Regions from separate parts of the Homo sapiens genome. Here region 2 is linked to region 1. Evidence: fine-mapped expression QTL. Tissue or cell type: liver. Region 1 holds a variant in brackets; the other region holds the start of a gene. All regions are shown on one strand. Distances are from middle to middle.

What was found. PIP is the estimated chance that this variant, and not a neighbour inherited with it, causes the effect.
Region 2: SYNE1 starts here. The variant in region 1 is fine-mapped to the expression of SYNE1 in liver (GTEx, PIP 0.92).

What each region holds. Positions count from the first base shown.
Region 1 is chr6:152,442,203-152,444,893 of GRCh38, forward strand. SYNE1 (spectrin repeat containing nuclear envelope protein 1) reads right to left here. Exons shown (of 146, transcript NM_182961.4): 30 at 2,209-2,376; 31 at 1-43. Among named protein-coding and RNA genes, the nearest start is that of SYNE1-AS2, 41 kb to the left of the region's middle. The variant T/C (reference allele first, on the strand shown) is at 1,353.
Region 2 is chr6:152,636,241-152,638,931 of GRCh38, forward strand. It overlaps SYNE1 (spectrin repeat containing nuclear envelope protein 1), which reads right to left and starts at 1,122. Exons shown (of 146, transcript NM_182961.4): 1 at 949-1,122; 2 at 398-565.

The DNA.
Region 1 (2,691 bases):
GCTGCACATCTCTCTTCTTTGCTGAGATCCGCTTTGTCTTTTGCTAGAAGCATTTATTCAACAGATGGATATAAATTGTGCTCTCTAAACAGCTAAGTAGGGACATCAACACCCACGCTTAACAGAAGTACAGAAAGGTGGGCCCGAAATGTATTTTAAAGCTAAGATTAACAGTTGAAATGGTAGTCGGTTGCTATATTAGTCAAAGATGAACATTATTTATAAATATTGTATGTTTTTAATGGTAAACAACATAAATAATTTGGCTTTCGTGTTTTGTGTGCAAATTTGGAGAATATTTAGCATTTTGTGCAATACTCTAGGAAGAGTCTGGCAAAACAATTCATCTGACATGATTCTTCTTAAATAATTATTTTCTGCTTAAAAACACAAAGTCCCAACTCCAATTTTTAAAAATTATTTATTTTATTAAAATGCAAATATTAAGAGATTTATGGCCAGGGGCGGTGCAGTGGCTCACACCTGTAATCCTAGCATTTTGGGAGGCCAAAGCTAGAGGACTGTTTGGGGCCAAAAGCTTGGAACAGTCTGGGCAACATAGCAAGACCCTGTTTCTACAAAAATATTAAAAAATTAGCCAAGTGTGGTGGTACATGCCTGTGGTCCCAGCTACTCGGAAGGCTGAGGTGGGAGGGTCACTTGAACCCAGGAGTTCGAGGCTGCAGTGAACTATGATTGTGCCACTACACTCCAGCCTGTGTGGCAGAGTGAGACACTGTCTCCAAAAATAAATGAATAAATATTTATTTCCTAAGTATATTCGGAATGGTTAATTTGCTGAGATTTTGTGGGGGGAAATTGTCTTAAAGTAAACTTTTTATTGAAGTATAATCTTCAAATAGAATAGTACATAAATCTCAGATATGCAGCTTATAAATTTTCACAAAGTAAATGCACCCATATAAAAAGTACCTGGCCTAAGCATTTTAAAATATTAACATAAATATCTATAATCTTAAATTTATTGGACCTAAAGTAAATGGAAACCCAAAAAACCATTTCACAATGATTGAGAACAATGTAACACCAAATATTAATTTTTTATACTCAGCCATTTTTTAGACAGAGTCTTGCTCTGTCGCCCAGGCTGGAGTGCAGTGGGGCAATCTCGGCTCATTGCAAGCTCCGTCTCCCGGGTTCATGCCATTCTCCTGCCTCAGCCTCCTGAGTAGCTGGGACCACAGGCGCCCACCACCACGCTCGGCTAATTTTTTGTATATTTAGTAGAGACGGGGTTTCACCACGTTAGCCAGGATGGTCTCGATCTGCTGACCTCGTGATGCGCCCGCCTCGGCCTCCCAAAGTGCTGGGATTACAGGCGTGAGCCACCG[T/C]GCCCGGCCTATACTCAGCCTTTTTATAATTATTAAGTAAATCTAGAAATCCTGAAGGCTGGGATTTTAAACATACTTTTAATGCAACTTCCGTTTTTATATATTACAGAATATATATGTATATAATACACACACAAACATATTATATAAATTAGCTACCATTTTGCTACTGTGTATCAGGTTAGCTAGAATTTTTCATTAAAATATTTTATTTGAATCAAATTTCCATTTATATTGCGTTTAACAAGGTATATATTCCTTTTATGCAAACATTTGTAATGTGCACTACCAGACTATCAGAAATTAAGTTGATTAAAATAGCTTCTTATCAGTATATATACCAGAATTTCTTTATTTCTAGTTCTAATCTTTATAAGAGTGTACACTCCAGGAAGGTCTAGTACTTCAAGTAAGTCATCATTTCTCAAACTAAAGTGTGTTCAGCGTTGTAAGTTGAAGAGAAAGATTTTAATATAATGACAAAAGAACAGTGATCTCAAATAGGAAGCAATTGGTCCATCTATGCCTTTCCATCTGTTTTGAAAAGGAGAATCTAGCACGTTTTGTGCAGTTTTTCATAGCTAAATCAATTTTCTCTCCACAGTATTCCTTGAACTTTTTGATGTCATCAAGTCACTCGGTCTGGAAATTTATGTTGCAGAATATCCTGAAATGTTTAATATTTAACAGAGAAAGCAAAACCCAGAAGCGCCAAATTCTTTTAGCCATTCAACTCTTCCTTCCCATGCCCCCTCACCCACTCTCTCAAGCCAGTGGTTGTATTCTTTATCTCTCTGGTTCTTTCAGTAGCAAATCAACTTTACATAATCTTGTTGGAAGAAAGAGGCATTTTTACCTGGTGATGAAGAAGTAACTGCTGTGCTTCAAACAGATTTTCAGTATCCAAGATCTTCTCAGCTTGTTCCTGGACTTCTTTAGAGCCAGAAATTAATTCTTCGAGAGAATTTTTGACTATTTCTTTGTACTGGACACAGTCCCCAAAATTGCTTAGCATCTTTTCAACCTATATTTTCATGAAAAAAAAAAACACGTAAATCATATGCTACTTGTTGAAGTTTGTATAATTTTTTTGGTAAGGTATGATTGACAAATAAACATTGTACATATTTAAGGTGTACTACGTGACTGTGAAATGATTCTCCACATCAGGCTAATTAGCCTGTCATCTCACATATTTCTCCTTTTGTTTTTTTGTGAGAACACTTAAGGTCCACTCTCGTAGCAAGTTTCAAGTATACAATAGGTAATATTAACTGCAGTCACCACCAGAACTTTTTCATCTTAGAACTTAATGTTTGTACTCTTCGATCAAAACCCC
Region 2 (2,691 bases), 190 kb after region 1:
GAGGCTCCTAGAATCTGTTCAACGCCCTACCTCTCCCATCTGATAGTAGCAACAGTACCGACCATCACAATAAGAGGCTGGCTGCCTTTTGCTTCTGCACCATTGGAGCCCAGGAGATGTGCCACAAGCGGAAATGACAACTCAGAGAGGGGGATATTAATAGGGACATCTACGTACGAGATGCAAAGAGGCTCCCCAACCTCCTAGTCTCCTTATCTATGAGTATCGCACACGTACACACATCACTGCCACCACCCCCTCCCATCAAGCACGCAGAGCCCCAGCGTGCAGGCACAAACTTGCTGACAATTTGTCTGCAATGTGTTCGTCTTGCACCTCTCTCTCCTCTCCCTGTCTCTGTCTCTCCCTGTCTCCCAGTCTCTGTCTTTCCTTTTACCTTCTCTCTCGGCCTCGTTCAGTTTCCCAGCAGCAAGGCGAAGCGAGCGAACGCTTCCTCCCGGCTCTCTGCGCCCAGGCTCGGCGGGACCCCGGGGATGCGCGGCTGTCCGCCCGCCCTGTCGCCGGGATCGGGCGCGGTCTGCAGGACTGCGGGAGCCCAGCCGCCCTGGTGACAGAGGACAACAATCTCAGCCCGCTGCGGCCGGCGGCCGCGGCCCGGCGCCCGCGCTCACCCTGGCTGGCTCGCCCACACTCACTCCCGCGCCGGGCTGCTCAGCCGCGCTCCCCGCCCTCCGCGACCGGTTCCTCCTCCCGGCTGCTCGCTGGGGGGTGAGGCCTCCCCCTTCGCCCTCCCCCACGCATCTACTGCTCCTGTCGGGAAGGAAGGTCGCCCAGGCCGGTTCAGCCTCTGGGCAGGGTCCCTGCACCGCCCTGGCCCGCCACACCCCCTCCCCGGCTCCGTGCCCCGCGCCCCGCGCCCGGCTCCGGGATGCGCCGGTGCCTGGAAGAGCTGGGGGCGGGGACCCGGAGGCTCGCAGGCTTCCCTACCTCCTGGAGATGCACGGCCTTGGGCGTTTCTCCGCAGCTGCAAAGCTGTGCTGTGACCCACCCGCTCAGCGAGCCTTTATACCGGGACCACCTCCCGGGGGTCGAGGTGGGAAGGAAATGTCCCTGAGAGCCGGGACGCGCTGCCTCCGCTGCCTGGAGGAGCTGCGCTGTCCTGCCAGCTAACTTTTGCCCACGGTTTCCACTGCCCGGGTGACCTTTCTGAGCGGAACCTATCCTGAAAGGCTGGGAGGTTCCCTGATGGTCCCAGGAAGGGCGTGATGCAGAGCAAAGAGCAAAACCCGCTGGCTCCTTTTTCATCAACTTCCGAAAGATCCTAAATCGTTTTGGCTGCCAAGTCAGTAGCAAATAACTTAATTTGAGGGAGACTGGTCAGGCTTTATAGATCTTTTTTAATGTTATGTATAAAGTTTAGACTTCTTGAGAAAGCGCTTGACATCTTTAATTCTTGACTGTTTATTATGATGATTCTAAAAACCACTTTTAGGTTCTTCAGGTGCACTGTATGCACCCTGTACATTGCGGAGCCATTTGTATCTTTGGCCACAAGTCCTTCTCGTGGTGTAAGAGATCTTGGTGTTGCCTGGTAGCATTCAGGAGAATTTATTTTGTTGTGGTTTTATGGTATCCAGGCAAAGTCAAACACAGTCTCTCTTCACCAACAGTGAAGTCCAAGTCCAACAGGATGATTGCAGCTAAAATAATCGAAGCCATGTTGCAATAATCTTAAAAGTAATAATCCCCCCCTTGAATCTCCAATCTGAACAAAACAGTCATTTATCCTCTAAATTTGCTGAAAGGAAGGAGCAGTTTATAAAGTAGATGAAGTTTCTCTTTGCTGCCTGCCTTTCCCTTACCTGCTGCCAACATTCCCACTGCCTAGCTTTCCATTTTCTTCAAATTCTCCTTCTTCTGGATCGTGTCAAAATAATAACATCTGAAACAAATCTGGTAAACCAATCTGATGTGTTCCTCTTCTTTGTGCTGACTTTTGTTTTTTTTTAGAGAGAGAAACCAAACAATGGATCTCTATTTGCAGAACTTGCTACCTCCAAAAGTTGGGCCTGGAGGAGGAGTGTTTGGGATCACTCTCAATGTATGCCCTGCCTCTGCCTGAGGGCAACAATCCTGGGGCACCCCCAGAGCCCCTTGTGGAGACAACCACCAGAGCATAATTATTCCAGGTCAGCCCTCTGTGCCCAGTGGCCACAAAATGGGGTCCAGATTTCCAGGCTTGCCACTCAGAAGAAACAGATCAGAATGGCTCAGCTCACCCTCTCAATCCCTACCTTCATAGAATCAATCCACCCTGCCGGCTTTTGAAGATGGGTAGAAAGTTATTGTGCCAACTTTGCCATTCTTTTTGTTTGTTTGTTTGTTTGAGATGGAGTTTCGCTCTTGTTCCCCAGGCTGGGGTGCAATGGTGCAATCTCGGCTCACTGCAACCTCCGCCTCCCAGGTTCAAGCAATTATCCTGCCTCAGCCTCCTGAGTAGCTGAGATTACAGGGATGCGTCACCACACCTGGCTAATTTTGTATTTTTAGTAGAGACAGGGTTCCTTCATGTTGGTCAGGCTGGTCTCAAACTTCCGACCTCAGGTGACCCATCCAGCTCGGCCTCCCAAAGTGCTGGGATTACAGGTGTGAGCCACTGCACCTGGCCACCAACTTGCTATTCTACACGTTAAGCAACTACTTTCTTGGGTTTACTTACTTGAGAAGTGA